Linked DNA regions of Homo sapiens: region 2 is linked to region 1. Evidence: fine-mapped expression QTL. Tissue or cell type: whole blood. Region 1 holds a variant in brackets; the other region holds the start of a gene. Each region is shown on its reference strand, or each on the opposite one.

The links. PIP is the estimated chance that this variant, and not a neighbour inherited with it, causes the effect.
Region 2: it holds the start of MPO, and the variant in region 1 is the best candidate, but not a certain one, in a credible set for the expression of MPO in whole blood (TOPMed, PIP 0.87).

Annotation. Positions count from the first base shown.
Region 1 is chr19:834,019-838,393 of GRCh38, forward strand. No RefSeq gene overlaps it. Among named protein-coding and RNA genes, the nearest start is that of PRTN3, 4.8 kb to the right of the region's middle. The variant C/T (reference allele first, on the strand shown) is at 2,636.
Region 2 is chr17:58,278,709-58,283,025 of GRCh38, forward strand. MPO (myeloperoxidase) reads right to left here and starts at 2,227. Exons shown (of 12, transcript NM_000250.2): 1 at 1,897-2,227; 2 at 1,658-1,751; 3 at 1,131-1,306; 4 at 815-938; 5 at 589-718; 6 at 300-506. The coding sequence starts at 2,050. RefSeq lists enhancers at 1-575, 3,160-3,177 and promoters at 2,217-2,811, 2,217-2,357, 2,750-3,151, 3,036-3,261, 3,307-3,507.

The DNA of each region.
Region 1 (4,375 bases):
GCATGGTGGCATGCACCTGTAATCTCAGCTAGTCGGGAGGCTGAGGCAGGAGAGTGGCATGAACCCGGGAGGCGGAGCTTGCAGTGAGCCAAGATTGAGCCACCGCACTGCAGGCTAGGGGATAGAGTGAGACTCTGTCTCAATAAAATAAAAAATAAAATAAAATAAAATGAAGTGTGCAATTCAATGGTCTTCGGTACACTCACAATGTTGTGTGGTCATGACCTCTGTTGAGTTCCAGAATATTTCATCACCGCCAAAGGAATCCCTGTCCCCATCAGCCGTCACTCCCTGTCCCCTCCCCAGTCCGCGGCACCCACGCGTCCTCTTCCTGTCTCTGTGGATGGGCTTGTCCTGGACATTTCATAGCAATGGGATCACACACTATGTGGTCTTTCGTGTCCGGCGTCTCTCACGGAGCGTGACGTCCTCACGGTGCCTCCGCGCCGTGGTCGGGTCACAGCTGGGTCCGTTTCACGGCTGCGTCCTGTTGCCACGCCTGGAGGCCTCACTGTGCTGCTCGAGGCCCCTGTGGATGGACGTCTGAGCCTCTCCACTTCCGGCCACTGTGACCCTCACTGCTGTGGACACTCATGTGCAGGTTTGTGTTGGAACTGCTGCTTTTCTTTCTTTTGTGGGTATAACGGGTCCTTTTTTTTTTTTTTTTTTGAGACGGAGTCTCGCTCTGTCGCCCAGGCTGGAGTCCAGTGGCGCGATCTCGGCTCACTGCAACCTCCACCTCCCGGGTTCACGCCATTCTCCTGCCTCAGCCTCCCGAGTAGCTGGGACTACAGGCACCCGCCACCGTGCCCGGCTAATTTTTTGTATTTTTAGTAGAGACGGGGTTTCACCGTGTTAGCCAGGATGGTCTCGATCTCCTGACCTCGTGATCCGCCCGCCTCAGCCTCCCAAAGTGCTGGGATGACAGGCGTGAGCCACCGCGCCCGGCCAACGGGTTCTCTTTACAGAGGGGGAAACTAAGCCTAGAGAGGGGTGCCAATGGCTCAGGAGCCCAGCCGGTGGGGGCCCTGCCTGGGTTTGGAGAGGCAAAGCCACTGCCTGATCATTGTTCAGATGGGGAAACTGAGGCCCAAGGCAGGATTGGGGTTCAAGGGCTTCTGGTGCCCCCGGCTCGGGGCCACGTTCGGTCATGAGGGTCCCCCTGCTGGGGCGGGATTCCTGCCAGAGGCGGTTTCTGCCCTCCTCCCCCCAGCCCCTGCTGCTCCCCCTTCCTGGGCCCAAGGGTGCTGTTCTCGGGTTCCCCTGGTAGCGGTCAGCCCGGCTGCAGGGCCCTCAGAGCGGGGCTGCGTGTGACTGTGGGCAGCCCGAGTCCTCTCCGCGCCTCGGATTTCAGGGACATAGAACGGGGTCCCATCCGTGGACCCACCCGCCACCCCGCAGCCCCGTCCAGGCCCCGACGCGTGCAGCCCCCACCCCGCAGCCCCGTCCAGGCCCCGACGCGTGCGTGCAGCCCCCACCCCGCAGCCCCGTCCAGGCCCCGACGCGTGCAGCCTCCTGGCAGAGCCAGCTGTGCTCAGGCTAAAAACAGCTGTTCTGTTTCTTCTCTGTGCCCCTCTACCCGGCCCCACTCACTGGTGTCTTGAGAAGGTTTTTAAATTTTCGGAATTCTCAGAACAGATTGTGAAATGTCTGGGTTTGGCTTAGAAATCCCGTGAGAGGGGGCATCAGGGGACAGGTGGGTGGATGGGCCTGGGGGGTGTGGAAGGCGGCCGGGTGTCAGGGCCCCAAGCACACGGGAAGGTCAACGGTCGGCACAAAACACACACAAAACACAACCACTGCGAGGCTGAGCCTCGCGGGCGAACCAGCATCTTCCCGTCACTCAGGGAGAGAAGGTTTTCCTTTATAAAGAGGAGAGGAAAGGAGGCCGGGCACAGTGGCTCACGCCTGTCATCCCAGCACTTTGGGAGGCCGAGGCGGGTGGATCACCTGAGGTCAGGAGTTCGAGACCAGCCTGGCCAACATGGTGAAACCTCGTCTCTACTAAAAATACAAAAATTAGCTGGGTGTGGTGGTGGGCGCCTGTAATCCCAGCTATTCAGGAGGCTGAGGCAGGAGAATCGCTTGTACCCAGGAGGCGGAGCTTGCAGTGAGCCGAGATCGCGCCACTGCACTCCAGCCTGGGCAACAGAGCAAGACTTCATCTCAAAAAAAAAAAGAAAGAAAGAAAGAAAAAGAAAGTAGTAGAGGAGAGAAAAAAGAGAGAACAAGAAAGATGGAGAGACAGAGACGGACAGAGACACAGAGACAGAGAGAGACGGAAAAAGAGGGACAGAGCCAGAGAGACTGAGAGAGATAGTTTTAAAAAAGGGAGACAGCGATGACACAGAGAGACACAGACACAGACACAGAGATGAAGAGACAGACAGATATAGGGAGACAGAGACAGACTGAGACAGAGAGACAGAGACAGAGGGAGACAGAGACAGAGACAGAGAAGGAGACAGAAAGAGGGCGGGGAGAGAGACAGAGACAGAGACACAGGCCTGAGCCCCGCATGGGTCTCCCCTCGGCCCCAGGCGGCGTCACCTGCGATCCCTGAAGCCGTTACCAGTTGCGCCACCTACGGTTGGTACAGGAAGGGGCCCCCACTACCTCTGCCCCCAGGCCGACC[C/T]CTGCAAAGCCCCCAGCGTGTTCCACGGAACCCTCCCTGCTACCCGCTCCCAGCGCTCCTGTCGCCCTGGCCTGTGCTTTTGAGTCCCCCCAGGACGCACAGGGAGCCTGGAGGACCCGGGGCCCGCGGGACGGTGCTGGGACCCTCCGGTCAGGACCGGGCTGCATCAGCCTTGCGTGGAAACAGATCCTGACGGGGAAGCCCACGTACAGTGAGGACGGGGCAGCCCCCTGGGCAGCTCTCGCGTGTGCTAGATCCAGCAGTGTGTGTGCAAGGTCTTTCTTTTCTTTCTTTTCTTTTTTTTTTGGTTGACAGCTTTATTGAGATGTCCTTCACACACACCAAGCAATTCACCCACTTAACAATTCGGTAGTGGCCAGATGGTGGGGGAGGATCGCTGGAGCCCAGGAGTTCCAGACGAGCCTGGGCAGCATAGCAAGACCCCTCTCTATTAAAAAAAAAAAAAGGCAGGGCGCGGTGGCTCACGCCTGTAATCCCAGCACTTTGGGAGGCTGAGGCCGGCGGATCACCTGAGGTCAGGAGTTCGAGACCAGCCTGGCCAACATGGTGAAATCCCGTCTCTACTACAAATACAAAAAACAAATTATTCAGGCGTGGTGGCAGGTGCCTGTAATCCCAGCTACTTAGGAGGCTGACGCAGGAGAATGGCTTGAACCCAGGAAGCCAAGGTCACACCACTGCACTCCAGCCTGGGTGACAAGAACAAAACTCCATGTAAAAACAAATCAAGAAACCTCAAATCCGTCGACCCCCACTGCTGCCCTGCAGAAGGTCCTATTACCGTCCTCACCCGCCTTTACAGGTGGGGAAACTGAGGACTGCAAGCCAAACAGCTTGCCTCAGCATGAGCTGACTCATGGCTGAAACCAACAGCACTTTTGTTGAATGAGAATAACCCTTTTATTTTGAGACGGTGTCTCGCTCTGTTGCCCAGGCTGGAGTGCAGTGACGCGATCTCAGCTCACTGCCCCCTCCACCTCCCGGGTTCAAGTAATTCTCCTCCCTCAGCCTCCCAAGTAGCTGGGATTACAGGCATCTGCCACCACACCCAGCTAATTTTTGTATTTTTAGTAGAGTCGGGGTTTCACCATGTTGCCCAGGCTGGTCTTGAACTCCTGACCTTGTGATCCATCTGCCTCAGCCTCCCAAAGTGCTGGGATTACAGGCAACAGCCACCGCGCCCGGCCACAGCTCTAGTTCTTTTTCTTTTTTTTTTTTTTGAGACGGAGTCTCGCTCTGTCGCCCAGGCTGGAGTGCAGTGGCACAATCTCTGCTCACTGCAAGCTCCGCCTCCCGGGTTCACGCCATTCTCCTGCCTCAGCCTCCCGAGTAGCTGGGACTACAGGCGCCCGCTACCACGCCCGGCTAATTTTTTGTATTTTTAGTAGAAACGGGGTTTCACCGTGTTAGCCAGGATGGTCTCGATCTCCTGACCTCGTGATCCGCCCGCCTCGGCCTCCCAAAGTGCTGGGATTACAGGCGTGAGCCACCGCGCCCGGCCCACAGCTCTAGTTCTTTAATACACATCAGGTCGGTCATGGTGGCTCATGCCTGTGATCCCAGCATTTGGGGAGGTCAAGGCAGGAGCGTCCCTGAAGGCTGGCAGTTCAAGACCAGCCAGGGCAACATAGCAAGACCCCATTTCTACAAAAAATTAAACAGCCAACCAAAAAAAAAAAAAAAAAGAAAGAAAAACTTTAGCTGGACATGGTGGAGCAT
Region 2 (4,317 bases), not on the chromosome of region 1:
TAACAAAGAGCCAGTGATTCCACCAACAGGACTCCTGTCAGCCAAGGAGGAACAACCCTCTCTCCCTTGGCCTGCCAGAGGCAGTGAGCAAATGGACGGCCCTGGCTGCCAGCTGGCTGAGCCCAGGCGCAGGAAGGAGACAGGTCATAGCTGAGCAGCCAGTGCTGTGGACACAAGGGAGGCAGGGCCAGCCTTCCTCAGCGTCTGGGAAAGGAAACCTGGGCACAGAAGGGAGATGGCCCCTTCCAGAAACAATCTCCCCTCTCCCAACCCAGGCAGTGGGCGGGAAGCAGGGCCACCTTGAGCGGGAAGCAGGGCGGCTGCTGAACGCAGCTGGTCTCGCAGTTGACGCCAGTGACGAAGGAGGCCCGGGCGGCCGGCTCAGGGGTGAAGTCGAGGTCGTGGTCCAACAGCTGGCCCCATTGCATGAACATGAGTGAGCGCTCCTGGTCCGGAGTCAGCTGATCAGTGGGGAAGCGCACGATCTCGTTGGAGACCGCGCGAGCCTGCGGGACACGGAGATCAGCTGGCGCCTGGGTCCGCGCACCGCGTGGCCGGGCCTCGCCCCCTCTGCCCGCCGGCGCTCACCAGAGCCACCGGGAAGCCGTTGCGCTTGACCCCGGGCGTCCAGCCGTAGGGAAGAGAGAAGCCGTCCTCATACTCCGCCGGCAGCCAGCGCACAAAGGCACGGTTGGAGGCCCCCAGCGTGGGGCTGCGTCTGCAGGGGAGGACAGGGCGCTGACACCGGGAGGCTTGTGGCGTCCGGGACGCCTCTCTGAGCCCGGTTCCTGCAGCCACCCCCAGCCAGCCGCACCTGTTGTTGCACATCCCGGTGATGGTGCGGTATTTGTCCTGCTCCGGGCAAGTCACCCCCACGTCCTGGTAGGCGCAGCCGCTTGACTTGGACAACACATTCAGCTGGGCGGGCGTCAGCACATCTGCCGGGGGAAAGAACAATGGGGGAGCTGAGCCGCCTCACTTCCTATCCCAGGCAACCTGAGGCTGAGGAGCCCTGGAGACTCCTGAGACTCCCTGGAGGAAGAAGTTGAGGGGATCACTGAGAGACGGCTGGGGTCCCTAGGAGGAGTCACTAGTGGAGCAGGGACCTGGGGTGTGATGGGCAACAGTACCAGTGACATTGAATGGCCTTCGCCACAGGGACCGCAGCTTCCTCTCCAGCAGGTCTAGAGCCACGTGCAGGTAGTCAGCGGCCCTCACCGCCGTCCTGGTGGCTGCCACCGGCTGCTTGAAGTAGGATAGGAGTTCCATGGGGCTGGCTGAGCCGCTGCGAAGCCGCTGCTTGATGCTGCTTGGAGAAAGGAGGAGTGAGGGCCAGAGAAGGGATACAGACCCACCCAGCAGAGCCCCAGCCCAGGGGCAGACATGCAGGACCATGCAGGCAGGCCCACGGGTGGGAGGAAGGCTTCCTTTTATAAAAAGGATATGGACCTGGGTGTCCAGACAGAGGCAAGGCTTTGGGAAGGATGGCTTTTAAGCTGTTCTCCCATCCAGAAACACAGGGACAGACAGACAGAAAGGGAGTCCACATGGGTCCCCATAGTCCCCCTCTCCCACCTTCAAGCTCCCTGCTGCCTGCTGCTTCTCTGAAAGGCCTGGGACATCCTTGCCCAGAGCTGGGCAGTGCCTCGTGCCCCACCTTTCCCGCCGCTCCTTGTAGGCCTTGTCCACCAGCTGCTTGGCCTCCTCCATGGAGCTCAGCACCAACGAGGTGTCCACCTCCCCCAGGACAGCTGCCCAGAGCAGGGATCACAAAGTCAGGAATGGGCCCCAACCCCCTATCAGGCCCCAGAGCTAGGAAGGCCTGCTCTGAGAAAAGGGGTCTCTGGAACACAACCACCCCAACACACCATCTTCTCCCACCTTGGGAACTGTTACCTGGAGCAGCACCTTCAGAGGGCTGGGGCGTGGCCAGAATGGCCAGGAGCCCTGCTAGGGCCAGAAGCAGCTTCATCTCTGCAGTGAGACCCCCAGCCCAGCAAGGTCCTAAGTCCACCATGCATCTGAGAGAAGAGAAGAAGGGAACCCCCATCTCTCTTCTCCTGGGCTGCTCAATCCCCCTTTGTACCTCAGCCCCACCTCAGAGGGCCCTGTCTATGGATAAAGCCAGACCTCCTTGAGGGAGGGGCTCACTGCTCTCTTATCCCCTTGCCAGCTGCTGTCATCCAGCTTCCAAGGACCCCACCTCCACAGCTCACCTGATATTGTCAGCTCCTCTTAGCTCAATCTGCGCTTTTATGTCCTCTAAGCTGGGGGTGGGGTGAGGTAGAGGAAGGTCTGATCCTGGAGACTGAACTCTTTCTCCTCCCCCACTGGGGTTGGAAGGTACACACAGAGGGGCCCCTGAAATGGGGGGAAGGGGCAGGAAAGGAGGGGCCAGCATTGTCCCCAGCCTTTTTTTTTTTTTTTTTTGAGACGTTATCTTGCTCTGTTGCCCAGGCTGATGTGCAATGGTTCAAGCGATTCTTCTGCCTCAGCCTCCCGAGTAGCTGGGATTACAGGTGCCCGCCACCACGCCCTAGCCTCTAGCCACATCATCAATTATTTCCTTAGGCAAGAAGTAATTTTTGTATTTTTCCTTAGGCAAGAAGCTAATTTTTGTATTTTTAGTAGATACAGGGTTTCACCATGTTGGCCAGGCTGGTCTTGAACTCCTGACCTCAAGTGATCCACCCGCCTCAGCCTCCCAAAGTGCTGGGATTACAGGCATGAGCCACTGGCCCCAGCCTGTCCCCAGCCTTTGAATTTAGCACTACCAGCCCAAGATTTCTCAGCTCACCATTGTGTGCCTATACCAGTGCTTGTCCCCAGGGGATACACACAACTAACCCCTCTGAAATTCTGGTTACACTGGTTATCCAGGGTTCCTTTGAAAGGAACAAAAGTCAGGAACTGGTAGCCCAAGGAATTGCAGGGAATAGAGTGCCCCCAGGGAAGACAGGAGGATGAAAGGGAGACCTGGAGTAAAGATGACCCAATTGGCCTCAGGTGGCCATCCCCCACTCCAACAGTAACCTGCATCCAACAGCCACCCAATGGGCAGCCTCTGGTTCTTGGTGGGGCTAAGGGGACAGGAAATCTGGCTGGAGACCGTTGGGCTTCACAGGAAGGAGGACCCTGGGGACTGTGGGCGCAGGACCAAGATAACTTCCTCTATCCCTCCTCACTCCCCTTTCTTCTTGGCTTCTGGTAGAGGGCTGTCTCCAAACTCCTCCTCCCCACCACCATCTGCTCCTGGATTTCAGGAACCAGGAGAGAGCAGAACTGGTTGTGGTTAGTGATCAGTTAGGTGATGCAGCCCAGGGCCTCTCTGGGACAGGATCAGTGCAGTTGGGAGGACTTGGGTTAATGATTCAGAATAATTCTGAAACAGAAGAGGATATTTCTTGCTTGAGAAAGCCCAGCAAAAGGGCCACCAATCTCAGCAGGAAAAGTACTACGACTTTTGACTGAATCAGTCTACCTCTCTGGGCCCTGGTCAGGCTGAGCTCGTGCCAACCATGCCTCCCATGTCCCATTTAGGTTCCCCCTCCTACCTTCAGCCACCTTCCCGCCACCCACTCTTTTTTTTTTTTTTTTTTTTTGAGACAGGGTCTCTCACTGTTGGCGGAGCTGGAGTACAGTGGTGCAATCTCGGCTCACTGCAACCTCTGCCTCCTGGGTTCAAGCAATTCTCCTGCCTCAGCCTCCCAAGTAGCTGGGATTACAGGCGCCCGCCACCATGCCCGGCTAATATTTTGTATTTTTAGTAGAGATGGGGTTTCAACATGTTGGCCAGGCTGGTCTCAAACTCCTGACCTCCTCCTGATCCACCCACTGTTGGGATTACAGGCGTGAGCCACCGCGCCCGGCCCACTCTTGTCTTCTATGCCCAGACCACCTCTTGGCCAAGGGACAAGGGACAGCAACACCCAGAATATCTTCCCAGTGTGTCCAGGGATTCTGTCCCCTGCTGAGAAGGGGAACCAAGCTTTTGCCCTGCCAGTGACTTGCTGTGTGTGAAGTTGGTCGAGTGGCTCTTTGTGAATCAAGCTCTAGAATTTTAGAGGCTTTTGGAAATGATTTTTCAATCCTTTAAGTAATATAATTTTCACTGATGAAAAGTTTGAGAACACGAGTATGCAAAAATAAAAATAAATCAAAATTACTCATCATCAAGTGAGATTGTGGGTACTTTTTTCTTTCAAGGTTTATCATTGTCTTCACATAAATAAACAATAGGAAGGAAAATAATTGCCCATAATCCCACCACTCACCAATACCTCATTTAAGAATTTGATATCCTATATGTAAACATAA